4 linked regions of the Homo sapiens genome follow. The protein of the gene in region 3 interacts with the protein of the main gene of each other region in a biochemical or structural test. Each region holds a gene or a part of one and is shown on either strand. Other genes may lie near its edges. The genes, in order: ARHGEF26, KCNJ2, DLG1 and FRMPD4.

Evidence for each region.
Region 1: the proteins of DLG1 (region 3) and ARHGEF26 interact in a test that uses a peptide from one of them, tested with the Homo sapiens proteins (2 studies listed by BioGRID and IntAct, with this or other methods).
Region 2: the proteins of DLG1 (region 3) and KCNJ2 form a complex in vitro, tested with the Homo sapiens proteins (2 studies listed by BioGRID and IntAct, with this or other methods).
Region 4: the proteins of DLG1 (region 3) and FRMPD4 interact in a test that uses a peptide from one of them, tested with the Homo sapiens proteins (2 studies listed by IntAct, with this or other methods).

Annotation. Positions count from the first base shown.
Region 1 is NC_000003.12:154,187,367-154,194,389, reverse strand, and holds part of ARHGEF26 (rho guanine nucleotide exchange factor 26), read right to left. Parts: intron 6,706-7,023; coding exon 6,553-6,705; intron 3,102-6,552; coding exon 2,972-3,101; intron 1-2,971. UniProt on the Homo sapiens protein: Activates RhoG GTPase by promoting the exchange of GDP by GTP. Required for the formation of membrane ruffles during macropinocytosis. Required for the formation of cup-like structures during trans-endothelial migration of leukocytes.
Region 2 is NC_000017.11:70,164,868-70,172,542, forward strand, and holds the start of KCNJ2 (inward rectifier potassium channel 2), read left to right. Parts: upstream 1-4,664; 5' UTR 4,665-4,834; intron 4,835-7,675.
Region 3 is NC_000003.12:197,043,596-197,050,618, forward strand, and holds part of DLG1 (disks large homolog 1), read right to left. Parts: intron 1,135-7,023; coding exon 1,028-1,134; 3' UTR 1-1,027. UniProt on the Homo sapiens protein: Essential multidomain scaffolding protein required for normal development. Recruits channels, receptors and signaling molecules to discrete plasma membrane domains in polarized cells.
Region 4 is NC_000023.11:12,133,648-12,141,482, reverse strand, and holds the start of FRMPD4 (FERM and PDZ domain-containing protein 4), read right to left. Parts: upstream 3,011-7,835; 5' UTR 2,512-3,010; coding exon 2,471-2,511; intron 1-2,470. UniProt on the Homo sapiens protein: Positive regulator of dendritic spine morphogenesis and density. Required for the maintenance of excitatory synaptic transmission. Binds phosphatidylinositol 4,5-bisphosphate.

The sequences.
Region 1 (7,023 bases), about 43 Mb from region 3:
GCCCTTACTAGTTATCAAATCTTGAGCAAGTCACTAACTCTATCTTTATAAGCCTCTCTTTCCTCATCTGTAAAACTGGGGTGATGCCAGCTACATCACAAGGTTGTTAGAAGTGTTAATGATAATTTATGTAAAGTTCTTTATTAGTGCCTGGCATAGGGTATGCCCTCAATAAATAAGAGTTACTTTAATTATCACCATTATAATCATTATTATTAGAGGCAATTATATTTATAGATGATACATTTTGAATAAAAAGAACAGCCAGGCACAGTGGCTCATGTCTGTAATCCCAGCACTTTGGAAAGCCAAGGCAGGCAGAATACTTGAGTCCAGGAGCCAGGGCAATATGGAAAAACCCCATCTCTACAAAAATACTAAAAGAAAATTAGCCAGGCATGGTGGTGTGCACCTGTGGTCCCAGCTACTCAGGAGGCTAAGGTGGGAGGGTCACTTGAGCCTGGGAGGTGGAGGTTGCAGCGAGCCGAGATCGCACCATTGCACTCCTGGGTGACAGCATCTCAAAGAAAAAACAGTCAAAAAAAAACCCAAAAAAACCAGCAAAGGAAAAAAAGCCTGCTAGGTTTTCTGTTGATATATTTATACTGAGAAATTTCATTTGTGATAGGAAAATCAGGTCAAACAGGGTCAATTCACGGTAAATTTAATTACATATAACTTTAAAGCTATACACACACATTCAAAGCCCAGGGAACCACTTTAATTACTGAAAGTGTTTATTTTAATGAACAAGCTTAACTGAATTTCCAAATGAGGTAAAATTGAAGAGACACTATTTTAAATACATTTACATTCTGCCTAAATGGCCAGATTTCCACACATGAGAAACAGATTAGAGCAACAGGCATCAGGCAGAGGTAGAAAGTAGTTGGCTACTAGCAAGTCACTGGTCCCTTAAATGTACAGAAGCACCAAGCCAAGCCATCTGAAAGTCAGGCATCAAGATTTTTAACTATCTGCTATGTGAGAAACACAGAGTGCACCATCTGTGGAGGTTCTTATATTTTTTGACTATGACTCACTGTAAGAAATACTTTTACACTGCAACCAGCACACATGCACACATAAATGAACCAGGATTTTATGAAACAATATTTAACCACTTTATGAGCAACGTACATATGCTCATAATTCAAAAATCAGTTTTATGGCCCACTAATGGGTATGAAAGCAGCATGAAAAATACTGGTTTATGTCCCTGAGAGCAGGCATCCTTAGCTGGATTCCATATATTGATATTTTATGTAAAATTTTGTGCATACACATATTCTCTGGGAAGAAAAGCTATAGCTTTACTCAGAATCTCAAGGGGGGGTCTGTGGCTTAAAAAAAGTTTAAAGCCTACTGAGCAATCATGGCATGAATCTCCAACACTGTATAACATAATGTGTTAGATTTTAGAGTCCCATTCCATACAAGTAATTTTCTCAAATTTAAAGAGGATATAAAAGGCTTGGCCATCACAGCATATATAAAATCTGGAAAACATGTTTAAAATGCATTTTATTTATTTTTGTTCTTTTATTTCAATTCTCAAAGAGGAATAAAATGCATTTTCAGAAGAAGAAAACCCTGAAAATTCAAAAGTCTAATATTACAAGAAATGTTGTATTTACAAGGCATTCACTTCTTGCTTAAAAAAATAGTCATGTTTGAAATAATACTTCCTTATATGGACCAAAGTTTCCTTCTTAAGCAAAAATTCGATTCTGATAACTTAGCCACATTCTATCTTTAAACATGATAAATACTGATCTCAAAAAAAAATCAGAAAGTGAAATGTTCAAAACTGCAAGCTTCCCAATATGTACACAGGGGGGAAGTTCCTGAATTACAGGTGATGGGTGGAGAAGGTGTAAAGGCAGTAGATCGAAGTAAACTTGAGGAGCACAAGGTGCTATGAATCCTGAAATACCTGACAAAACGTCTCCAAAACTGCAGCAGTCAGCTAAATGCTCATGATTCCATGCTTTTACACATTTCAAAATTTCAGCATTTTTAAAGAATGTATTTTAGAATTTACAATGGGATACAGAATGTGAAATTTACTTTGTAACCTTAATCATAATTTTTAATATATATTTTACTTTGTTTTGATTAGTCAAAATCAGGTATGTAAAAAGTTGACCTTATATCAACATTATGATCCAATTTTAAAGTAGGAAAATCATAACAAAATATTTTCTAATTAGATCAAAAAGACACTCTGTGATCCACTGCTAGAATGGCACCTGTGTCGAGCCACCCCACTTTTCTCTTTTGCTGCCCCAGCAGCTCCAGTGCAGCCAGTGGCAGGCTCTCCTGCCCATAGCCTACCTGTCTTTCCAGCTGCACGTACTACTAGGCAGACTCTACTCACTTTTCCCAGTCATGTCTTGCCGTGATTCAAAGTCAAAAACACTTGCTTTCCTCATGAATGCTGCCTAACACAAGAAGGAAGCTGGGCTTTCCTCACTCACTTCGCACAATGCATAATACAGGCAGTACTATGCCTTGTCATGCTGAAGAGACTCTCATTCCTGTATGAAATGGAAGGCCCAGGGCACCTTGGAACATTATAGATGAAGGGATCTCAGTGATCAGTCTGAGGAATCTTAGGCCCAAAGAGACTGAGTTGCTCAAGGTCACATGCCTAATGGCTTAGCTAGAATTGGAATCCAGGCCTCCTGACATAAAGAAGCCACAACTCTTCCTATTTCAAAAAATGCTGAGTAAGTGGGTGATGAGATCCAATTTCTTCAGAATGACCATAGAAGCCTAAATGAAAGATAATTTCCAGAGATATCAGATACAGGTGAGACTTTCTGAACAAACAACACCTTCTCACTTAATTGGGGGATTTTTAGACCTTTAAATATGCATCAATTTAAGTGGAATAATAATAATTTTCTAAATCAGATTTAGAGAAGCACAGCTATCCACAGAGGAAAAAGCCACCGTCATGTCTTACATCCATCAGCAGGGGAAGGCGGGTCACCCTCTGCATGGGGAGAATGAGAAAAGAGATCATGGGTAAGTTCCTACAGTCTTCATGGGACTCAATCCTTGACAATACTTCCTTAAAGGATGGATTGGTAGCTCTGAGGGAAAACAAAGAAAAGAGAAACTTCAAAATATTTCCTCCTCAAATTAAGCAGCAAGTAAAAATGTATTACAAAATACTGTGATAAATCCATATAGCATCAACTATTTTAAACTGTATGAAAATATCATAAGCACATAATTACACTGGCAAATACGAATGGCTTGTCTGCCTTTTATATTCAAGGCTGAATATAATAAGATGTGGATTTCACATAACAGTATTAACAATAAGGCAAAACATGTAGGAGCTAGAAATTTATACAAGTGGAAGGTAAGCAAATGAAGAAGCTGTGGTATCATAATGGTGAATATATGGGTCATAAATCAGTATACAGACTAGGTCTTTTATATCCGATCATCTATAAACATATATCATTAATAAGATCATAAATAATATGTTTTAAGCCACTTCTCCAGCCCTAGACAATGGCATAAGAAATTAACAGTTAGACTGGACTTCAGAGGCTTTAGGCCACAAAGATCCTCTTTCTGAGACAGAAAACCTTTTCATCACATCAGTCGAAATATTCCTCTTTTTCTCCTGTTAATGCAAGAAAAGTATTAATGCTGCTATAACATTTTAATGAAACTTAGCGAGATACTGTGACATACATTCTTTCATGTGGAACCACCTACGTAACTTTTAAGGAAGGCCAGATAGGGATTCCAGTAAGAAAATGGAATGCAGAAAGGTCCCTACCTCACCAAGTAAATATGACTTAGTAACTGCCAAAGACAGAAGTCAAACCCAGGTTTGTTTGTTTGTTTGTTTGTTTTGAGATGGAGTCTTGCTCTATCACCTAGGCTGGAGTGCAATGGCACAATCTCGGCTCACTGCAGCCTCTGCCTCCCAGGTTCAAGCAATTCTATGCCTCAGCCTCACAAGTAACTGGGATTACAGGTGTGTGCCATGACGCCCAGCTAATTTTTGTATCTTTAGTAGAGAAAAGGTTTCATGTTGGCCAGGGTAGTCTCGAACTCCTGGCCTCAAGTAATCCACCTGCCTCGGCCTCCCAAAGTGGTGGGATTACAGGCGTGAGCCACTGTGCCTGGCCTCAAACCCAAGTTTTCTAATGTTAAATCTGACACTCTTGTCCCCCCATTTCTCACTCTCTTACCTCACTTCATCCCATGAGGAGCTCTGTAGAGTTCCACTGCCACTTTCCAAGGCAAGGAGGGTAGGAGGTAGATGGATATTGTACTCCCATGAAGGGAGAAGGAAGCAGGATAGTGACAATAGCAGTCATTTTTTTTAAAAAAAATGTTATTTTGAAAATTAAATAATCTTGTTCAAGGCTGCTACTAAAAGCAGGGAGGGGGAGAATGCCAGAATAGCAAATGAAAAGAAATTATACAGAAACAATTCATTTCCATTTTCTCTAATTGAGAAGTTTTAAGTTTCCTTTTACTGATAGCTTTGACAAGATTTTTAGAAAGTTAAAAAAAAAAAACAAAAACCTCTAAATTAGTTGTATATTTAAATAACTCAGGTCCCAGTCCCCTCCCTCACCTTCCAAAGGTTCTGATTAAATAGTCTGGGATGGACTCTGGACAGTGTACATTTGCTCATTTTCAGGCCCCAAGGCATTTCTAACATGCAGCTAGAATTGAAAGCCACTGTTCTAACCTTAAATTCACATAAACTGCGGGCTGGGCGCAGTGGCTTACGCGTGTAATCCCAGCACTTTGGGAGGCAGAGACAGGTGGATCACGAGGTCAGGAGATCAAGACCATCCTGGCTAATACGGTGAAACCCAGTCTCTACTAAAAATACAAAAAATTAACTGGGTGTGGTGGCATGCACTTGTAGTCCCAGCTACACGGGAGGCTGAGGCAGGAGAATCGCTTGAACCTGGGATGCAGAAGTTGCAGTGACCCAAGATTGCGCCACTGCACTCCAGCCTGGGTGACAGAGTGAGACTCCATCTCAAAAAAAAAAAAAAAAAAAAATCACATCAACTGCAACAAATCCCCTGAAAACACTACTAATTGCCACGTGAAAGTGCTGATGATGTTATCATTAAGCTAATTTAGATAAAACCTTTAAGAGTCACATGATGTATAGCAGTACCTAGTGACATTTTTTAAATCCTGCAAAACAAAATGAAACCCAAATTTATCTCTAATTCAAGGCTTTGTTTTCAGACATGAACTTGCATTCTCTAACAGTTACAGAGAACCTCTGTTCCTATAGCAGCGGTTCCCACCAGGGCGTGGTGGAGTGAGGAAGTGATGGGTGTGGTTTTACCCTCAGGGGACCTTCTGCAATGTCTGGGGAGATTTTTGGCATCTAGCAGATGGAAGCCAGGGATGCCCTTAAGCATCTTAAAATGCATAGGACAGCCCACCACAAAGACTTATCCAGTCCAAAATGTCAATTGTGCGAACAAACCCTGCTTTATACTAAAAATCTCATTGGGGTTAGCAGCTGTGTGTTTTCCACCCTGGCTATATGAAAATGTCATGAAGATGTGGAGGAAAAAGGGGGCCATCATCAGCCCTTCTCATCAGCTTAGAGGCTTTGACTATTTCTCCAAGCAGCCATAAGTTAGTCATCCTCAACCCCTACTCCTCCATAGGGGTCTCACATATTGCACAGAAGTTGACCGAAGCTCCATGCCGTGGTCATAAATGCCACAACTCACAGGAGGGGGTGAGAACGATAACAGCCATTAAGCTCCCAAACTGGGTTTACAGCAGTGCACAACTGTGCTGTAAAACAGCTACTTGTGATAAACAGGACTCTTTAAAATACATATAGGCATTACTGAACAATTGGTGACTCTTTTAAGGACACAGATGGCATATGCATCACATCAAAACTCTCAGTAACCTAAAAAGGACAAAAAGAAAAGATGTGGCAGGAAATCTAATGCTTAACTCTTTTGCTGCATAACTGAAATCTTTAAGAACATTACTTTTTTCTACTGCTTTCCTTCAGAACTTCCCTCCTCTCTTCAACTCTAACTACCCAAGTGGGGGGAATAATCAGCAATTTTTATGAACAATTTATTATCGTTGTCAATTGAATGGAGGGAGATCAGAATAGTAGAGAAAACTCTGAATCTTAGCTTTTAGCTCAATCAACTCAAGAATCCCCTCTAAGCCTCAGGAAAACCACTTAATTGCCAGTAAAAAGCTTAGAAAACTGCGGGTTTAGAGTGAGGACCACCTCTGTTTCCTGCAACAATTAAAAACAACGAAACACTAAACAAGGACATCAATAACAAGCTATAATTTCGTAAGAGAGAAAATTCTCTACACACTAGATTTTTCTACTTAAACACCCTCACCCTAAAAGTAATGCTCTTAAACATTTCTCCTCTGGGAAATAGCCTATCAGGAGGCATTTCTAAATATAATTCAAAAGATCAATTAATTTCAGTCAATGTAGCCTAATTAAAACTAGGTTAGATGATTAAAACTGTAGCATTCGACATTGCTTACAACAATTTTTGTAGTGTTCGTTGTTGGTAGACTTCATTTGTGCAGTATTTCACATATGGGTCAAATGTGGATGCTGTGTGTTTTTCCACAATGTCACTTATGTCATCTATGAAGATATTATTCTGATGTCTTGCTTCCAACTCTATAAAGAACCTGAAAAACCAAAGGGAAAAAAAAATTAACACTTCTTTCATACACTCTAACAGATAACAGATTAGCCTCATGTAATGTTATTACACGGGGTTTGAAAATTCAACAGTACACAGTACCAACTAAAAAATATTTTTAAAATCTATAAAAATTTTATCTAAGTTTAAATCTATCATATTAACACCTCCTTGAGGATGAGCATTGTGGCTCACGCCTATAATCTCAGCACTTTGGGAGGCTGAGGCAGGAAGATCACTTGAGGCCAGGAGTTCAAGACAAGACAAAACCAAAAAAAAAAAAAAAAAAATCAAGTTATTGCTT
Region 2 (7,675 bases), on a different chromosome or scaffold from region 3:
TCCGTGGTTATAGAGGGTAAACCGAGGCTGTAAACTCATTACCTTTGGGAGACCTAATGTATCCCAGAAAACACAGATGAAATGATCATTGTAATCACTGAATCAAGAAACATAGTAATGTAGGGTCTGGCCCTAAAATGAATATGGTATTTTCAGAGTGTAATTGTCTCACTCATGTGAGATAAATGAAGTCTTCCAGAGCATGACAGAATAGGTAATTTACTAAATAATAACATGGAGGCTCTGGAAGTGTGAGCTTCTTAAAGAACAGCCCCACTTATTGATTTTGGTTTTAACATATTTGATGGAAAATAAAGGTCATAATAATAAACGGATAAAGTAAGCACTGAAATATTTTCTCAATACATCAGTACATGATTTTATGTGTACATATAAACATATGGATAGTTGCAAACACGCGGGTATCTCACTTACTCAGAAGTTTTCCTCAGCTATTTATAACAGCAAATACAAAGACTAAGCCATTTAAATGCTCTGAGAAGCAAAATAGATGCCATAAATCCAAATCCTGAAGCTTTTTTACCCAAAAAGGAGGTTGACCAAGCGAAGGTAACTCCAAATTCAGCATCTGCTCATACTATTTCAAAAATGCATCTTTAGATATGTTAAATCATATTTGCTTGTACATTACTTTAGCAACCTTGGTTACATAATTTATCAGCCCAGCACAGATTAGAATCAACAAATTAGGCAGAGCATGGTGACAGTCTGACAGATTCAAGGCACATTATCAGAAGCAAAAATGAGAACGGAAGGCTCACATTGATGGAGAAGGGAAAACAAGCAGAAGGGCTTAAATAAGCTTAGTCTAGGGTCATTTAATGCAGGAGAAAAGGCTCTACTGTAACCTGATAGGCCTACTGTATTGCAGGTAAAAAATGAAATAGCTTATGTTTATTATAATCATATTGAGTAATCATCAAAAGTTATACTAAAACATACTGTTCCTTTCATTCATTTCCATGTAACTGACATTTATTCTTAGAAACAACTTATAATTCATATGCTTGATTACCTGTATATAGAAAGGTCTGGGGCATAGCAGGCATTTAAGAAATTAACTGAATGAGGAGCCACTCCTATCTTCTGACGTGTTCTCAGCATCCTTAATACCACTACACATAGTAATATGTCATATGTATTAAATCTTCCATTACAAAGTCTTACCCTGCTTCATTCCATTCTTCAAAATCTAAGATTATCGTTTTATTTGTTGCTTGATCCATTTTAGTGCATAATCATAAGCTGCCTTATATTGTTGTTTAATCATTTAAATGTTTCACTTCTGCCTTGTTCATCTTCTCAGTTAGACATTTTGAACTCTTAAGAAGAGGAATTACTCCCGCTAGGACACTTCTGTCTTTCATCTCACCTAGCATATAGCCAAAGTACAACGTAGTTATTTCAACAAATACGTTCACTGAATTTAAAAATATGAAGATTAAATATTATCAATGCAGTAAGTGAAACTAAAGGCCAAAACTGTTTTCCAATAAATAAGATTACATACAGTGCCTTAAAATACCACAGTAAGTGGCTTGTTCTCATAGCAGCAGATTGCAAACTCAGCCTGTCTACATTTCCGGGCAATCTGACAATGATTTATTTACTATTTATTGCTAATGATGATTACTTTGAAGATTAGAAAGTGGTTTTTAATATCCAGTGGATACAAATGCCAGGAGCGTTTGATGTTTTACCATTGTGAATTTGAACTGCATATACATGGTTAATGTAAGTCTGAAAGTATGTCTAATTGTTGGGGATCTTTATATAAATGCAAAGGAAAGATCTGTGCTTCTAGTGAAACAATCACCTTCTGCGTCACACAGCTATTCACAATCTGACTGCAGATCCAGATTGTGACTAATATTTGGCTCTAATATTATAGGTGGTTACCGTGGAGAGAATCAGTAAGAGCATAATTGTCATTTCCTTGGAAAAATTTAATCCACAGATGGATCCCAACACCCAATTGCATTCGTGTCCAAGACTAATGGGGATTTTTGCTAAATAAGGCCTGATTCAGCCAAAAAAGATAGACTCTGAATACAGAAATCTGCATCACGCATCACTTCAAAAGATGTATTAAATCAAACACTGAAAGCATTGGCACACAGAATTTTCCTAATAGGGACATGATGAAAAGTCATTTATTAATTAAAATGCATTTATATTTTCTTTTTTTAAAATGAAGCAATGGGGGTATTCTACGCTACCATACATTTACAAAATTTCATTTGCAAAATTTCATCCTTCATACTTCCTTATTTAGCTAATTAAGGTAATGATTCTACTTAGATTGGAAAGTTCTAATTAAAATCATTAATTTTTCCCGAACCTTCTCCTTCAAGATCTAAGCTTTGCTGCACATCCTTCAGTCTTTGGGAGGAGAGAATGTTGGGGGATGTGCTGCTGATAATTGATGAGAGAGAGCAGGATACATTTATTATGACCTTCCTCCCGCTGCCCAGCTAAATTTATACAGCCAACCATAATCTAATAACTCTGTGTTCCTTTCTTTAAAGATTTTCCTATCATATGAAACTATTTCGGCCTGTGGTGTATTCTTTCTAATTAGAGTAGAATACTAAAGCAAAACCATTTCAATCCAAGTTGCATAAAAATGCCATCCCTTTCCGAGTGACTGGTTTTCAAAGCGAGCTCATTACCTGGAAAAACAACAACAACAAAAGTGTTGCCTCTCTGAATTCACGTGGTTTGGAAAATTCTTAGCCATCTACAGATGCACCAACTGAATCATAATAAAGAAGAGAAAATCTATAAATGATTAATTTCCTTTTTCTATTTAGGCTTAACATGTTTTAAGGGATAATTAAACTTTTGGCCTGTTTCTTAGAAGTCCAGGAGGAAGCATATTTCAGAAGAAGCTTATTGAACTGAGCGGTGAACTCATTCATTATCCTTTGGTTAATACAGAGTGAACTTGTCTACCCTCAGGTTCATTTAGCTTTAGGCTACAGCCTAGATTCTTAGACATCCGTCTATTTTACAGTATTAATTCAAGCTGTTTATAAATAACACATGACTAAATAGATGTTAAAGAAGACCTCCCTTGGGGCAGGCATTATTCCCACGTGCATGGCAACAGAGTTCGTAACAGGGCTTGGTGAACAGTATAATCTCAACACATTAACTGGGACCACATCGCCATTTGGCTATCAGAGCAGCCACACCGAGTGCATCATCTCTTGCACACCCTTTTAATTTAAGTACCTTGCTCAGTGCTAAGAAAAAAGGCACACTTGTTAAGGCAGGAGTAAGTGCGGATCTGCGAAACCTAAGCAAGCATATTTCACCAGCACCTCCTAGGGGCCACGTGTGGATATGAGGATGGGAGGTGGGGACTCGCACAGAACCTTTCCTTGAATTGTCAGTTTCACCTCTCCTACACACAAAAATCCACCCCGACTGCGCCGTCCACAATACCAGCTAGTTTGCTGAATTAGTTCAGCGACTCAAGGAGGCCTTACGAGGTTTAAATAAACTGCACAAAAGACACATTTGATCGCTCGAGAAAATAAACATTTAAAAAACTCAGTGGAAAGAAAGACTCCTAAAATATATCCTGTCCTTTAGGAGCAAAGCTTCGTTAGGACACCGAAGTACTCAGAAATAATAGGCACTTACTCTTCGGTTTACACACACACACACACACACACACACGGATTAGTTTATAAAGTTCCAGGATCCAGACCCGGTTAACACTGAAGTTGCTTTTTAGGGGTCTGCGCGCTCTCGCCTGGCTGCTGGGAAGGAGGGCTGGGAGGCGCTGAAGCGAGGGCAGATCTGAGTGTCTGTAGGAGTTGCTATTCCAAAAAAAATCATTACTCTCTAATTGTTCTGATTTTAGATCAGCAAAGCGTGCCGGGCGGTGGTGGAGAGACTGAGGGCGGACAAGGCGAGAGGGAACGAGCCGTCCACCCTTCGGAGAAGCCTAGGCGCCTTGTAAGTAATTCGCGAACAGTCGGGAGAACAAACAGCCAAGCGGCGCTGCAGTGGCCGCACTTGCGCGCGTCTCAATCCTGGGGGCTCTGCGCGCCCGCCCCAGTCCCTCGCCCCATTGACTCAGTGGCTTCTCCGGGCGCTGCAGCCTCCGCGGGGGGCTTCGAAGGGCCGAGGGGCTCCGGCAGAGAGGGAGTGGAGAGGGAGACGCGCCGGGACCGACGAACAATCCTGCCCCTGCGGCAAAGGTCTCTACCCGGCGCTGGCACCTCGCAGGCCCCTCGAGGAGCACGCAGGGCAAGCGGCCCAAGAGCGGGGGAACCGGGAAGTGTGTGGGGCTCCAGACGGAGTAGGAAGCTTTGCCCAAGGCCAGGCTGCAATCAGGCAGCCGCAACAGCCGGGCGCGGAGCTTCCCACCTGCTGCTGTCCCAGCTGGGCCGCAACTTCCTCCTCCCCGGCCCGGGCCCGACTCCCCGGCCGGGCTCCGAGGGTGGAGGGGGACGAGGCGGCGGCAGGTTCCCTCCGCTGGCAACGCCTCGCAGCATCCTCCCCTCCCCGCCGCGGTTCCCGGGGCCGGCCGCGCGGCCAGGCGCGCTGCGATTGGCCGGCAGCGGCCGGGGGCGGGGCCAGGAGAGCCGGTGTCGCACGGACCGCCTCAAAAGAGCCCAGGATATTGCAGAGCGCACTGGAGCCCTGGCCAGCGCGCAGCCTTCCCGGCGCCGGCGGGCTGGGTCTTGGGAATTCTGGTTTGCTTTGGCTCACTCGCTTTTTACAAACCACTGGATCTTACATGCCTCTGTACCCCCCACTTCCACTCCATGTCCCCATGCTCCTGCGCCAGCAACAGGTAAGGGCTGCTGTGTTTTCTTCCTTTTCGCTCGCTGCCGGTGTGTCCTGGGGAATGGACTCTGGCCGCCGTCCCCTACCCTACCCTGCCCCGCTGCTCCAGAGGTGCCCAGCTGTCACACTGCTGTAGCGCTCACCCACACTCCGGAGTCCCAGATCATGCCTATATAGTTTGTGTGCGCACCAGAACATCCCCAGAGCTAAAAATACTGAGACATGCTTGGAACAGTTGAGCAATAGAAACAGATTTCTCTGCAGCATCTGTTTGTGCTCATAACTTCCAATGCACCAGCTGTAGCGAGATACTGGGTTTGGAGGCAAGGGCGAGAGCGTCTGTGTTCGGTTCTCACTCTAAGTGGGGAAAAAAAGAAAGAAAACGTGGTTGCGGGTTTGGGGGTGCGTCTTGAGCCCTGGTCTTAAACCTTGGCAAAGCTTGGGACTCAGCACTATTCTTGATCCTTGGCTTTTTTTTTTTTTCGTCATTGCTTCAAGTATAGCTGTGAGTTTCAAACAGAGTGAGTGTCTCAAAGTTGCCTTCCTGAAAGAAGAGCGGGAGCCCGAGTTGGATTTGAGCCTGAGGATCGCAAAACTTTCACATTACATATCACTCTCCCCTAACCAATTTGTTATTTTCAGTAATAATGGTATTAATACCTGGCTTGAAGACAGTGTGGTTTTAGGAAAGCAAAATAGTCAAAACGACTTGATTCTGCAAAAAGATTGCATCATAGCGTGGATTCATCATGACAATTGGAAAAAAAATAGGGATAGGGAATGGGCAGTTTAATGTCTGTGTCTGGGTAAGGATATCATAGGATGATCACTAGGATAAAAGGCTGTGAATTCCGACGATTTTCATAAATTCAGATTTTACCTGTTAGGAAATAAGGTGTTATTTGAAAACCTCGGATATGCAAAGAAACCATATTGCGTTTTATCATTTGTTTTCTTTTCACATTAATAATCAATAGGCTGCCAGATTTCCTCTCGCCAACCAATGTTGTGTGTCTGCTGTACATTATCTGTACACTTGTTAGCGTTTTCCTGCTCACTTCCAAATGTTTCATTTCTATTTGCCATTATCTGGAAAAATCCTGGTGCTCAGAAGGGGTAAGAGATGTTAATTGAAGCATGGTGGAAAGGGTGAGGATAAGGTCAAGGCCATTTTACTTAGCTTCCTCCTCTCTCATATTTTAATGACACTTTATTTTTTAATGTTCTTGGTCTCCATAAGAAATATTTGATCTAAACTCATGTGAATTTTGCTTTTAAAAAAAATAAAAGAACACAGTCTTTCTACATCCTTTGGATTCCTGAGTTGTAGAATCTCTGGTTAGCTGTAGCGTCCTTGTATGACTTTTGCGTAGCCTGAAAGATTGAAAACAGCTACCTGCACAGATTAAGTGTTTCAGATTTTTTTAAGTGTATATTTTTATTTACCAAACATGTCTGTTTTTCAGCGTATGCAAATGCTGAGCAGTGCTACAAGCCAAGTGTCGTTGAGTATAAATGTTAGACAGGGGGCTCACACGTAGATAGATGGGTATCCCCCTCCCCTCCCCACTTCCCCCTCCTCCTCCCTCATGTTTATTGAGCTTCTAAGAGGCTGCTTTCCTAGCAGTTGTGCTCACATAGCAACATGTGCCCAGAGCACACTCAGGCTGTTCTATATGGCGTCAGCTGGGGAATAGCTGCTCTAAACACTCATTAGCAGACCTCTCTCTCAGCCCAGTACGTTTTCTTTTGCTATCTTTATTTCCTATCCTTAGAAACTTTCTTATTTATTGCACACCATGACCATATTACAGGACACATTTACTCTCATTTGATTTTTTTTTTTAGTTATTTATAAGCCATATTGGAAGTATTACCTATATAGTCAAAGCAATTTAGATCCCCCATTTGTACCATGTGATCTCCTTGACCTTACATTTATCCATAGCTCTTTCTCCTTTAACATCTACCTAAGTTTAAAACGCTGAACTATTTTTTTCCATTGCTTATGCTTAATTTTGGCTCAGCCTATAAATAGTCTTAACATGAACAGCACCACATGTAACCTCTCAATTTCCCAAAAATACTTTCTACATCATGGGTTATGGCCTGGATAAAAATGATTATTTGTGTCCATGAAATTTACATCTAGACCCTTAAATATTTTGGCTGGAAGGGAGATTTACACATTGTTCATCAAATCAAATTTCAATTCTCTGGATTTGTATCACTTAGTGTTCTCATCTACTCCTCATTGATTGCATCTCAAACATTATTTTGAATATATGCTTGAAATAAAGTTGCATGTAAGCCCTGTTTTTTTAATGATAGCTTTTCTCAGCTGCTCACGAATTGGTAATTGCTAGTGAGAGGACCGGGCAAGGAAGTTTTCTGCTTGCTTAAAGTCGCTCAGGCATGTGGGCAGGTTAACAGTAAAAGCAATTTTTACCATGAAATATTAAGACCGTTACCCCATCAAACCTTGACAGGTTCTAGACTTTAGCTATGTAATCAGCTCCACAAAAAGTCTGCATACATATATGTGTGTGCACCTGCATACACACATAAATCTGTTTGGGGGCATATCTATTTAAAGTGGCAAAAGTTTTCTTTTTGCCAAAAAAAAAAAAAAAAAAAAAAAAAGCCCAAAACTCCTCTTTTTCTCTTTCCAGGAAGAAATGGTAAAATTTCTAAATGATGCTCCACATGTGGAACAAATTCTGTTATTAGCAATGGAAATAAGACAATAATAGTCTCTCAATACAGGCTACTTTCAAGATTCTAAATGTGGAAAGCTATTCATAGGAAGCTGGTATTGTGTGATTTGTGGAATTCAAACAAATGTCCT
Region 3 (7,023 bases):
TGTGCGCAACTATGTAAAGAAAATAATTCCCATAGTTACAGTTTAAAGAAAGTTTTATATATATATTTATATATATTTTATTATAACAAAATAGGCAGCTATTGTGGGTAAAATATTCAGTAAAATCTGACTCCTAAGAATACATTTGAAGTTTTAGGCTATGAATTGGACTCCTTTCCATTGCCATGATGGTTACTACGTCACCACTGTAACGTCTGATTTATCTGTATTTATATCTAGGAAATTTTCTCAATCTTCTGTGTAAAAGGCGAACTTCCTTAGCACCTGAACATGGCCTCAATTCACGAAATGTGATGATCATTTACATATGAACAACTTTTGTAAGACACGATAGTGTTGCTCAAGTAGATTAAAAACATTGAAACGTTGTTATTCCTAGCAAATGTCCTGGGAAAAAAGAACCGTCAAATACTAAAAGGCTTTAAGAATGTTGAGGAAAAAATGAAATCCCTTATGAAAGTCAACTCAGACATGAATTTTTAAATTAAAAAATGTCCTTATTTATCTATAATGAAACAATTGCTTTGATGATAGAAGTTGATTGAGAAAAGGACTTGAGAGTAATACACTGGCCAAACCATGCTATTAAACTGAAGCGTGCACAGTTGCTCAAAGTCTACTAAATCACTGATTAAAACCACTTTTTCATTTGTACTGAAATTTGAAAAGAATGTATATAAAGCTTTTCCAAAAATCTCTTAAAGTTACTTTCCCTTAAACATTAAGGAATTTTACCACAATTTCTGCGTCTCCCCACGTTCTTAATAGCTGGTCAGGCCATTCCATCTTCAGTTCTGAAAAATGGCCACTAACCAATAGTGACATTAAATAATACACACGATGTAACTTGAAGGAGACACTACATGTGAAAAAGAAGCTGCAGACCATGATGTGTGGGATACAATTCAACATGAAATCAGTACTCAAGAAAGACTCCAGAGGAAAGGGCAAAGAGATGCCAAAGAAAATGGAATTGTGGAAAAGAGAAACAGAGAAACATGAGTTTTCATAGCTTTTCTTTTGCCGGAACCCAGATGTAAGAACCAGATTGTTCTTCTATGATCTGTTTCACTTGGTTGTAAATGTCTTCCAGCGTATCCCCCTGTACAATAGCTGTAATGATAGAAACAAAATCAGAAATCTCCATTAATTGTCTATTTTTGCCATTACAATTATTGATGAAATAGTAGAAGCTAGTATCTTTGAAAAAGTTACTCATCCAGGAAGAATCACCATTTACACACTGTTCACTTAGGAAAAAAGGCTCACTTCATTAATTTTCCTATTTATATAGTATAAAATTTTTATCTTAAAAATGGATCAAAAAGTAAGACTTGGAGATCTTTTCTTTTGTTCTTTTACCATCTGAGCATATATTAGCTTTATTATTTTAAAACAAATTATTTTCTTAACTTTCCTGATTTCTCCATAAACATATGTAGAAAAAAGGAAACTGGGTACAATCCCATAGACAGGATGATGTAAGGATAATTTTTTTTTTTTTTGGGGTAGGATCTTGGGGGAAAAGAGCTGATTACAGATTGATACTACTTTTTTCAGTTAAGCTAGCATGTCAGGTACTGTAGTGTAGGTGAATTGAGAGATACCTAAGCTAGCTTGTTAGTGGTTAGAGACTTAACAATCAATGTTTATTTGCTGTCTGAAATAATGTGTGAAAAAAAGAGTAACAATTACTAACAACTAATTCTTTGGGAATAGCTGAAGCCCCTGAGGTCTGTGAGGGATTAGTTAATAAAGCAAACAAACAAACAAAAACAAAGTATCGCTAGACAGCACTAAGCATGAGTAACTAACTTTTTAAGAAAGAAAGAAAATGTTTATGGTTGGGCATGGTGGCTCATGCCTGCAATCCTAGCACTTTGGGAGGCTGAAGTGGGAGGGTTGCTTGAGGCTAGGAGTTTGAGATCAGCCTGGGGAACATAGTGAGACCCTGTGTATTTAAAAAAAAAAAAAAATAGCTGGGCATGGTGGTGTGTGTCTGTAATCCTGGCTACTTGGGAGGCTGAGACAGGAGGATGATCTCTTGAGCCCAGGAGTTCACAACTGCAGTGAGCTATGATCGTACCATTGGATTGTACCATTTGCCTGGGTGACAGAGTGGAACCTTGTGTCTCGTAAAAAAGTTTACATATAAATGAAATAATTGAGAATTGCAAATTAAATAAGTCACTTACTAAACTACAAAAAAATGCCCAGTGATCTTGGAAGAGCATCATAGGTGTAGATTTCCATGGTCTGAAAAACTGAGCATAAAATGTCAAAGGGGGATTTTAAATAATACTGTCTATTTGGTACCTGAGATGATGTGCATAGAAGAAAGACGTTGTATGTAGGTAGGAAGCACTTATACATAGCTAGGAACGCCTGAATAACCAAGAATTTTCAGTAACATGATATTCGCTAGTATCAGTTTTGTGAGACTTCTACCTTTTGAGCTAAATGCAGACATGCCTCAATGTCCCTGAAGACTCAGTTCATTTGACAAAATACTTGGTTCGTGGGTTTGGCATCTTGATGCACCCCAACAGCACAGGACAGAATCCCAGAGCATTTCATAGTTTAGGTTGACAACAGCACGCAAGGATTTATTTTAGAGCATTTCATAGTTTAGGTTGACAACAGCACGCAAGGATTTATTTTAGGAGAAAACAGTCAGGAACTGACTTGGGAAATATACATTTTGCTTACTTTGTAAATTCATTAATGGAATGGTTAGTAAACCAGGGAAACTGGGAAAGCATAAGGCTGCAGACACCTTAACCATGTGATTAAAATTAGCATCATAAGTAACGGCACAAGTAGACTTTGTAAACCTCCTTGCATGATACACAGAGGACACATCATTACTTCATTGCTATTCCTGCCCCAAATGCAGAACCTAAATCGAATTATGAGAAAACATCAGATAAATCCAAATTGAGGGAGGGACATTTTATAAAAGAATGGGTCTTTGGCCGGGTGCAGTGGCTCACGCCTGTAGTCCCACCACTTTGGGAGGTCAAGGTGAAGGTGGGCGGATTGGATGAGTTTGAGACCAGCCTGGGCAACATGGCGAAATCCTGTCTCTACAAAAAATACAAAAATTAGCTGGGCATGTTGGCTGTAGCCTGTAGTCCCAGCTCCTTGGGAGGCTGAGGTGGGAGGATCACTTGAGCCTGGGAGGTGGAGGTTCCAGTGAACTGAGATCGCACCATTGCACTCCAGCCTGGGTGACAGAGTGAGACCCTGGCTCAAAAAAAAACAAAAGACAAAAAACAAAACGAAACAAAAAACAAAACGAAACAAAAAACAACAAAAAATCCCCCCTAGTGTTTTTACTCTTAAAAAATGTCAGTCAGGGTCATGAATAACAAGACTTGGGAACGATTTCAGATTAAAGAACATTAAGGATGTGATAATCCAATACAGCACGTGAGCCTCCGCTGGATCCTGCACCAGAACAGAAAAACCATTTTTTTCCATTTTGCTCTAAAGAGATTAGAAGAATAGTGAAATACTAATAAGATCTATAGTTAGATGAGACATATAATTATTAAATTTCCTGATTTTGATAATAAAACTATGATTCTATAAGGGAATATCCCTGTTTTTTAGAAAATACACACTGAAATATTTAGAAGTAAAGGGACATCTACCTGAAACTTACTCTCAAGTGTATCAGAAAAAAACCTATAAATGTGGTAAAATGTTAACACTTGAGGAATTTGGGTGAAGGGTACATGAAACTCCCTGTACTATTCTTGTAACTTCTATTTAAGTCTGAAATTAGTTTGAAAAAAATAAGAAAGCACAAGGTTTAAAAACCATGACCCTTACTGATACTCAGTGTGAATGTCAAATTTAGGCTGATATTATTTCAAACAAACAAGTAACAACAACAAAAATGTCCAAAGACTTGAGGAGGAAGTTAAAGGACAAGGCGAGTAAAATAAGAATATTGGGGAGTTGCTACCTACTTTTTTTTTTTTTAAACAAATAGTATTTCAAAACGGATCAAAGGGCAACTAATCATTAAAAAGGGGCCAAGACTACACAATAGGGAAAGGCTAGTGTCTTAAATAAATGGTGCTGGAAAATCTGGATATCCACATGCAAGAGAACGAAACTAAACCCTTATCTTATACAAAATTAACTTGAAATAGACTAAAGACTTAAATGTAAAACCAGAACCATAAAACTCCTAGAAGAAAACACAGGGAAAAAAGCGCCTTCACACTGGTCTTGGATGATTTTTTGGAAAGCACAGGCAGCAAAATAAAAAATCATCAAGTGGGATATTAAATAAAAAATCTACACAGCAAAGGAACAATCAACAAAATGAAAAGGCAACCTATGGAAGAGGAGAAAATATTTCCAAACATGCAATTGGTAAGGGGTTAATATCCAAAATATATAAGAAAATCATTAGCAAAATACCAAATAATCCATTTAAAAAATGGGCAAAGGACTGGAATCGACATTTTTCCAAAGAAGACATACAGATGGCCAGCAGGTATCAGTAAAAGTGCTCAACCTCATTAATCAGAGCAACAGAAACCAAAACCATAATGAGGCTGGGTGCAGTGGCTCACGCCTGCCATCCTAACACTTTGGGAGGCTGAGACGGGCAGATCACTTGAGGCCAGGAGTTTGAGACCAGTCTGACCAACATGGCAAAACCCTGTCTCTACTAAAAATACAAAAATTAGCCGGGTGTGGTGGCATGTGCCTGTAATCCCAGCTATTCAGGAGGCTGAGGCATGAGAATCGCTTGAACCCAGGAGGCAGAGGTTGCAGTGAGCTGAGATCATGCCACTGTACTCCAGCCTGGGTGACAGAGCAAGACTCTGTCACAAACACACACGCAAACCATAATGAAATATCACCTTAGACCTGTGTGGATGGCTGTTATCAAAAAGATAAGAGATAACAAGTAGGCAATGGTATGAAGAAAAGGGAACCCTGTACACTGTTGGTGGGAATGTAAATGAGTAAAGCCATCACAGAAAATAGTGTGGACATTCCTCAAGAAATTATTATTACTATTATTATTTTTGAGACAGAGTTTCACTCTTGTTGCCCAGGCTGGAGTGCAATTGTGCGATCTTGGCTCACTGCAACCTCCGCTTCCCAGGTTCAAGCAATTCTCCTGCCTCAACCTTCCAAGTAGTTGGGATTACAGGCATGCACCACCACGCCCGGCTAATTTTGTATTTTTAGTAGAGAAAAGGGGTTTCGCCATGTTGGTCAGGCTGGTCTCGGACTCCTGACCTCAGGGGACCTGCCCACCTGGGCCTCCAAAAATGCTGGGATTACAGGCATGAACCACTGTGCCCAGCCACCTCAAAAAATTAAAAACTGAGTTATTATATGATCTAGCAATCCCACTACTCGATATATATACAAAGGAAAGGAAATTGGGCCAGGCGTGGTGGCTCACACCTGTAATTCCAGCACTCTGGGAGGCTGAAGCAGGCGGATCACTTGAGGTCAGGAGTTTGAGACCAGCACGGCCAACCCTGTAACCCTGTCTCTACTAAAAATACAAAAATTAGCTGGGTGTGGTGGCATGTGCCTCTAGTCCCTGCTACTTGGGAGGCTAAGGCAGGAGAATCAACAGAACCCAGGAGGCGATGGTTGCAGCAAGCTGAGATCACACCCGCATTCCAGCCTGGACAACAGAGTGAGACTCTGTCTCAAAACAAAACAATAAAAAACAAAAAGCCAACAACAACAAAAAGAAAACCAAAGGAAAATAAATCAGTATGTTGAAATCTGCACTCCTATGTTCACTGCAACATAATCAACAATAGCCCAGATATGAAAATCACCTAAGAGTCTGTCAAAAGATGAATGAGCCGGGCCCGATGGCTCACGCCTGTAGTCCCGGCACTTTGGGAGGCCAAGGCGGGCGGATCACCTGAGGTCAAGAGTTCGACTAGCCTGACCAACATGGGGAAACCCCATCTCTACTAAAAATACAAAATTAGCTGGGCATGGTGGCACATGCCTGTAATCCCAGCTACTCAGGAGGCTGAGGCAGGAGAATCGCTTGAACCCGGGAGGTTGTGGTGAGCTGAGATCATGCCATTGCACTCCAGCCTGGGCAGCAAGAGCAAAACTCCATCTCCAAAAACAAAAAAGATGAATGAATAAAGAGAATATTGTAGGCCAGGTGCAGTGCACCTATAATCCAAGCACTCTGGGAGGCCGAGGAAGAACGATTGCTTGAGCCTAGGAGTTTGAGACCAGCCTAGGCAACATAGCGAGACCCTGTCTCTACAAAAATAAAAAATTAGCCAGGTGTGGTGTTGCACGCCTGTAGTCCCAGCTACTAAGGAAGCTGAAGAGAGAGAATTGCTTGAGCCCAGGAGGTTGAGGCTGCAGTGAGCCATGATCATGACACTGTACTCCAGCCTGGGCAAGAACAAAACCCTGCCTCAAAAACAAACAAACAAAACCAAAAACAGGCCGGGCACGGTGGCTCACGCCTGTAATCCCAGCAATTTGGGAGGCCGAGTCGGGTGGATCACGAGGTCAGGAGATCAAGACCGTCCTGGCTAACATGGTGAAACCCCATCTCTACTAAAAATACAAAAAATTAGCTGGGCGTGGTGGCAGCTGCCTGTAGTCCCAGCTACTCGGGAGGCTGAGGCAGGAGAATGGCGTGAACACGGAAGGCGGAGGTTGCAGTGAGCCGAGATTGCGCCACTGCACTCCAGCCTGGGCGACAGAGCCAGACTCCATTTCAAAAAAAAACAACAACAAAAAAAACCCCCAAAAAAACCCAACAACAAACAACAACAAATATATATATATATGTATGTATGTATGCATGCATATGGTATATATACAACAATGGAATATTTTATTAGGCCATAAAAATGAAAATCCTATCATCTGCAACAACCAACATGAGTGAATGTGGAGGACCTTATGCTATATGAAATAAGCCAGACACAGAAAAGCAAATACTGTATTTCATTTATACGTGGAATCTAA
Region 4 (7,835 bases), on a different chromosome or scaffold from region 3:
AAAGTCAAAATATGCAGTTTATTTATTCCAGTGTCGAATAATATTCTCTTGGAATTCTCTGTAATTACACTGTCTTTACTCACAGATAGGACACTAAGCAAATATCACTTCCAAGATATGCCTTCTGAATTAACATTTAGAAGCTCAAGTTTGTAGGAACCAAAGGTAAGGCCAGGTACCCAGGGTAACTACATGTGTTTGCCTCTAAACCAAGAGAATTTTAAGCACTGAAGTAACCATGCTGATCAAAGCTAAATCCTTTAGGAAGATTATCCATTCTGAAATCAGGAAAATCCTGCAGTATAAGCACTTTCATACTTCACCTTTGAGAAAAGAACTTGCTTTCTGTAACAGTGTTTAAAACACATACAAGACTTTCTTCCTCCCAAGGCAGAAACAAGCAACTGCAAACATGTGTTTTTACATGCTGATGACCCTCTAAAGGTACTTCTATCTCAGCACGGGGACCATCCTCGGGCTCACACTAAAGAAAAAGAAGAATTCTATGGATGGAAGATTTCTTAATCGGCACATCAGCTCAGAACATTTGCACCTTCTGTCTTTAGAATAAACACTCTACTGGATCACATTAAGGATAGAAAGTGAAACTCACACTCATTTACTAAATTTTAAACTCTCTTTAAAATAAGATACCACTCTCCCCACAGCCTTGCTTGAGTTTTGCAAAAACTCAGATTTGTGAATATCATGTAGGCATCCTAGAATTTAGTAAAAAGAATATGAAACATCTTTTCACTGACACATGACACTGTCCTCTCCAAAGTTCCTAAGTTTAAGGACTAAATCGAGGCTCTAGATGTTTTGTTAAACTGTTTTTAGCATCTGAGGCCACCAAAAAGTATCCTGGTTACTTTGAACTATACTATTGGTTGAACTTCCCTTTCCCTTTAGCAGTATCTCTGTCCATCACACGGAGGGTACCACTTAGCCTCTAAACTTGCACACAGCTGCTTCCCAACCATGGTTCAATATTTGACAGCTGTTTAGAAACTAGCCCTAGGCAGAAGCATGCAGGAAGTTAATAGAATAGTGGTGTGAAGCAATGGCCCTCTATGAGATCAGCTTGAAAGCAAACAATTGGCCACACCACAATCATCCACTGCTTAACACATCAGTCTTCTGATCTGCAGGACAACACCTCTTCCTGAGCTGCTCTAAGACACAGGTATTTACCCATCAACTGCGTATCTCCAGTCTACTTAGAGTAAGCTGCACTGGGCCTTTCTGCCTGGGGAAATCTGCTAGTGGCATGAAGACTGACCCATGTTAGTAGAAAGGGAAGGTGGAGATGGGCAGGCAGAACAAAGACCTGTAGATGTCGGAGAGAATGGCAACATCCAAACAGAACCTTTCTGAAGTGGTCTAATGTAATTTAATAAAGCAAAGTCAACATACGTTTCTACCTCTGACTATTGGAAGCTGCTCATCCCTGCCTGATGCAATCAACACATCTCACTCTGACACTCAGGACTGAAGGAAAACCTGGGATTATTCTGTCCATATTGCAAGTAAGTTTTTAAGCTACATCCTGGAAAAACCCAACTGTCTACCTCCTACGTCCTGGTGGTAGCTGCTATAAAGAGCTCCAGGGGCAGAGAAGGTTGGGCATGGTTTTCTAAGACCACTCCTATTGGGCTCTTCCCAATTAATGCCACATAGCAAGCAGCACAAACCTTACTCTGTGGCTCAAACGAAGACTTTGGAAGCATAAGCAGGGCAGAAGACCTGGAGGAGTGCTCTGGCCAGGCAACACCTAGGCGGCCCAAGCGTGGAAATGTTCCTCTTTTATCAGTACTACCCAAAAATGTCTGAATCGATGATTTAGTTTTAGCTACTGTTTTAACAACATGGCCACTTAGAAGAAAATTTCTAAATCTTTCGAGGCTTAAGAATATAGTTACCCCCCCCCCAAAAAAAAAAAGGCTGAAAGTCTTTCTCTTCTATCTACATGACTTCGCCATCTAGGTTACCGTTGGGAGCACCTGGTCAATCTAGGAGCTGACTTTGTGGAGGTGTGGAGGTGTAATTTAGGAGTTGGGGGAAGGCGGCACTTTTGGTCTTTGCAGCTTGGAAGGCAGGCACCCAAGCTCCAAGCACTTCTGGGTTTCCCTAGCAGTAGCAATTACAACCATCTTCTCTTAGCCCTGAATTATACATGGGACCCCAAACACCGCTGGGGCTTTTCCTTAGGGAAAACAAACTGTCGTGAATGTCGGTGTGTTGGTGAGGGCATGTATGTACCTCTCTGTGTGTGGTCTACACCCGCCGCTACACAAGCCTCAGCAGCCAGTGAGAAATAAGTTGAACGTGGAAGCCCCCGGCCACTTCGTTTGTCTTAAGCCCCGTCGCGCTTTCCAGCTTTTGCCTCTACCCAGCCTCCCGAAAAATAAGGCACCAAGTTGCCCGCGGCAGCGGCCCTGGGTGCAAACGGAACCCGCGCAGCCCCTACCTCGAAAGCTTTGCAATCTTCACAAAGCTGAAGACATCCATGCAGGCAGCTGGGGACCCCCGAGCGCGACAACTCCGTCGCCCCTTCTCACGCCAGCAACAGCAGCCTCCGCAGCCCCATGGCCAAGACCTCAGTGCGCCCGGGGCTCGAGTCGCGGCGACAGCGGGTGGCGGCGGCGGCCGGAGAGAACCTGCACCTGGAGGCGGCGGCTGCTACCCCCCTCCGGCCGCGAGCTGCGTGTGCATCCCCGAGCAGGACCATTGATAGGCACCCGAGGCAGGAAAACTCAATGGAGAGGGAGCCAGGCAGGGCGCAAGAGGCGGGGGCGGGGAGCGCGGCCCGGGTCTCGCGCCCCGCCCCGTGCGCTCTAGCCCCGGGGACTGCCGGGCGTCCAGAGAAAGCGAGGCCTGGGCGAGAGGCGCTGCTCTGGCTTCCCGGCCCTCGGACCCTCGTGCCCCACGCACCGAGGAGCGCAGACGGAGCCGGGAGACGGCAGGCGAGCTGGGCACACGCGCACGCACCCCTCGCAGCACTGCAGCTGCCTCCCTGCCTCCTTCTCCAAGCCGAGTCCCTGCTCCTCTCCCCACCCCCACCCGCCCGGGGGGAGGGGGCACTCTCCTGTCACCCACTGCGTGTGCCTCTAGATCTGAAGGATCTGGTCTAACAGTCTATGGCACACTGGAGAACTGTGAACGCTACCCCTCCCTCCCCAAGCCGAAGGAGAGCCGTGCAACCGCAGGTTGCTCAAAGCCTCGGTTTGCTCCGTAAACAAAACTAGCGTTCGGAAGGAGCAGGGATGATTGAGGTTGGGTCGTTTGTCAAGGGGAAGGGAAGGGAGATGCCAGGCGCAGCGGGCTCGATTCGGGGAGCTCAGAGTTCCCACTGCTTCTCCCGAATCGCTGGGGCGAGACGTGACCACTGGGCTGGCTGGGAAGGTGTGTCTTTGGACAGCAGCACCGCGGGAGTGTCTGCCAAATAAGAACCGGAGGCATTTGCGGGTAGGGGGATGAACACAGCTGCTCCCTCCTCGAGGAGCATAGAGCGGAGGGTCCCAGGAGCCCGTGATGCGGAGGCTAATTCTAACCGGGCTCAGAATCTAAGGAAAGAGAAGGATTAGAATGGGGTCTGCCACGCAGAGCGAGCTGCTTTTGCACACTGAGCCTTGGGTGAAGGGAACAGGGAAGAAAAAAACAAAACAAAACAAAACCTTGCCGGAGAAGCAAAAACACAGAAACATAAACACTCACCTTAGGCAGAGTAAACTCCAAGTTGCAGCCATCTAGAACTCCTCCTAGCCTTCTCTTTTACATAATTACCTTGGATAATCAGCCCTGTTCATTAACTCAGTTCTACCTCCTGGGAGGCTCAGGCTTCATTGGGCCCCTTTTTCTTCTTCCTCTTGAAGTCTCAAGGCCTCTTCTCCACAATCCTTTAAAATTTCCCCCCAGACTGTGAAGGTCAGCTGGCCGCACTAAGTGTGTGCTCTCCCACCGGCAGCGTTCACCTGGCGGCAGGGCCACCGCAAAGAACAGAGAGCACCCCCAGAAATGTTGGAAGATCCAGCCAGTGTTCCAGTCTAGCTCTCCGAGGGGATTAAGAAAGAAATAGGTTTAAAGTTCCCACACTTCTGCTCCTCTCCTGGTCTGTTGTTATATTTAAAGTCTTCAGTATTCAAGCCTAGTACTAAAGCGTTTTTTTTAAGCATTTATTTCAAAAACTGAACATAAAATAAATAGCAATCTGCAAAATCTAAATGACTTAAAACTCAGGCATAAAATTACATGTTTTTGAATACATAGTTATCAGTTTTCCTGCAGCTTCTATTAAACAGGCTAGTTTAATTGCATGAACGCAGTTACTACTCAAGGATCGGAAGGGGCGAGAGGGACCTTGGCTTTTGAACTCTATTGTTTGTAAAATAATTATAGTTTGGGTCTGCACTGTGCTTTATAATTTTTAAAGCTTTTTTTTGCATTGGAGTCTCATCGCAACCTTTTCATATAAGGCAATATATTTAGAAATCTTTTATTTTTATGCCATAATCTATTCTCAACATACCAGACAAAAAGATGTTTTGTGTGTGTGTATGTGTGTGTGTGTGTGTGTGTGTGTGTGTGTGTGTTTTAACGTAGATCACATAAGGCTACTTGTCTGATCTAAAATATGTAAAAGCTCCCCATTGTCCGTCAAGCTAAAGTTGCGCTCCTGCAAGGGCCAACAGGACCCTAGATCCCGTATCCTTTGATCTTTCTTACCTCAACTATTACTGCCCACTTCCCTCTCCCGTTTTTCTCTGTCCCTCCTCATCCCCTACCCCGAGCCCCTCCTCTCTCACACACATACACTCACTGGGCTCCAGCAATTCTGGACTTCTTGCTATCCTTCAAACTCTACAGGTAATCTTCCCACCTTAGGCTCTTTGCAATGGTTGTTCCCTCAGCCTGGAATGCTCTTTCCTGGGATATCTGCATGGCCGGCTTCTCCACCCTGTCAAATGTATGCACCAATACCACTTCCAAAATGCCCCCTCTAGAAAGCCAATTTAAAATTGCAAAAGGTTCTCACACCCTGGACTCCGAGTCCCTATTAACTGTTTTATTCTTTTTTCTTGTTTCCATAGCATTTATCACCCACTAGCACACTATATAATTTATTTTTATCTTTAGGATTTCTTTTTTTTTTTTTTGGTCTGAATCTCCCACTGGAGCTCCACAAGGGCTGGGATCTTTGTTTTGTTTTGCTTTTGTTTTTCACTGATGGATCTCAAATGCCTAGACCACTTCCCCAGATGTAGAAAGAACTTAAGAAATATTTGTTGAACGAACAAATCATATGCCCATTGGATTCACAGCCAAACCAAAGCTGGCCAAGCATCCCCAGTGAGTACTGATCTGTGTATGACTTCGTGGCTTACATCTGTCTCTTTCCCCACCCATCCACTTCCCCAGCATCCTTCAACCTCCTTTGGACTGACTGTTAATGATGGCAACAAAGGCCTTCTTACATTCTCCAGTTATTTTCCCCCTTCACCTTTTCTACCTTTCCCCCAAAAGAGTGGCCACCGACACGTTCCCTCATCTCTGAGTCAACATCTGGCAGCACAAGACCAGCTCGTGATTGGGAAAAGGGGATAAAACAGTGCCTTTGGAGAATGTGTTTTGAAAAAGTGCTTCCTTCTGAGAAGAGAACAGTTGGGATGCTCTTTTTAAAAGGATTACCCTATTTATCAATAATTATTCCAGATACCAAATATCTAATTATTCAACAGTGAAAGTGACAGGAAATAGACATTGTGTTTACTTCTAGAGAGACAGCCTCCCTTGGAGACATCTGGTCTACCTGGAACAGCTTGCTGTTGGCCTTCTCCCTGTGCCAATTTGTGCGCTACGGTTATGAATGATGCAGATGCCATCTCTCCACAGCATAATAGCTACCAAGGGAAATGACTGACTTCTACAGGTCTTTACACACCTCTCATATAGTAATTATCTAGTATGTTTTCTAATGGATTGATATTGTTTTCTAAAGCAAAGAGATTCCACCCCTCCTCCTTTGTTTCTCATTAATACAACAATGGAAAAAGCTGCTCCCTTGAAACATGCTAACACAGAGTGTTTATATCTTTAAGCCATCTTGGCAGAAGGGCAGAGATTGGAGTAGTTGGTCTCTCAGCTCTGTCCCCTCTCTGTGCCAGGTGTGTGCTGCAGAGGTTAGGATAGGTTTGTCTAGCATGAACTAGATCTGCCTAAAACAAATAAAAGCCAAAAAAGTGGGATCCTGAGTACATATGTGGTTTTCTGAAGTTTTCTTATTAACCTGGATGATCTCTAAGGCCCCTTCTGGATCTTGTAGGGATTTACTAGTTGGAAACTGTATTATCCAACCTTGAGAATCTACTTAATTTGCTTTACTTAGGTTCAAGTGACATTTGGTCATTTCTGAAAACCAGACACACTTTCAAACACTGTTGAAAGTACTCATGAATAAAAGACTCAGGGTCACCAGATCCAGAGCAAGTCCTATAACTTCTCTGAGACTCAGTTTCCTCAGCTGTAAAATGGAAATAATACATCTTTACCTTACACAAAATGAGCACTTGAAGTTGGCACCAGTTTACAGTTGGCTACATATGAGTTGAGGCACATGAATATTAGCTCTAGAAGGATTTCCACAGCTGTCTGCAGCCTTGGCAGTACTGGTAGGAAAAGTTTCAGCCTGTAAGATGACTATTTAGGAGGCCCAACATTCGCTTGGATTAATCAGAGGTAGGCACTTTTGCCTAAAAATCAAACACTTTGTTGCCTGGGCAGTTACTAAAGCCCTAGGCTGTAGCATTTTTTATGCCCCGGGGGATTCTCAGGGGGAAGTGTGAGGAGCTTCATCATTCTTAAGGCCTTATCTAAAGCTGGTGTTAGGAATCTGCTATTGGGCCAGATGTTCCATATAGGTTGGCAGCTGAGGGTTCTTTCGCTGCAAGTTACAATAGAGAGAGCCCCAAGCATTTCTCAGCTGGACTGAAGCATCTCGACCATCTGGTCTCAGTCCTGAAAACAGAAGTAAATAAATAACAGCAAGGTATCCATTCAATCAGCAAATATTTATGGAGTGTCTCCCATGTACCAGGCACCACTGTAGGCACTGGGAAATAGACTAGGCAACAAGGCAAGTTTCTGTTCTCATAGAACTTATGAAGAGGAGGTAGATGATAAACAACAAAATCAGAAATTGTAGTGAACAAGAAAATAGCAGATAGCAATGTGCAGAGAATTAAAATTCTTCTGATGGAAAGGGAGTGGCTAGGTGGCTATTTGTTATTCAGTGGTTCAGGAAGACTTCTATAAGGAGGTGACATTTAAACTGAGATATGAAGAACAAGAAGGAGGCTGCCACACAAAATTCATATGGAAGAGCATTCCATGCAGACGGAACGGCAAGGATAAAACAAGGATGGAGTCCTTGAGGCAGGAACGATGATTGTATGTTTGAAGAATCCGAAGGCAGCCACTGTGACTGAAGAGTAACGCGTTAAATGAAGTGAGAGTGAGCGAATTTGCAGGGGCAAGAAGGGTGAGATCACATGGGGCACAGTAGGCCAGTGTCAGCTGTCTGGCTGGTATGAGACGGGAAGCCATGTGAGGATTTTTAGCATGGAAGTGGCCAAATCTGACTTATGTTTTGAATGACCACTCTTGAGGGAAGTGAGTGTGAGGGCAGGGAAACTACTGATTTAGGAGCCTGTTGCAAGAATCCAGGCAAGAGCTGGCAGCAGCTCAGAGAGGACATGACAAGGAGGTGGTGAAAAGTAGCCAGGCTCAGGATATGTTTTGAATAGGAACAGTTGATGGGTTAGATGTAGGAGGTGGGG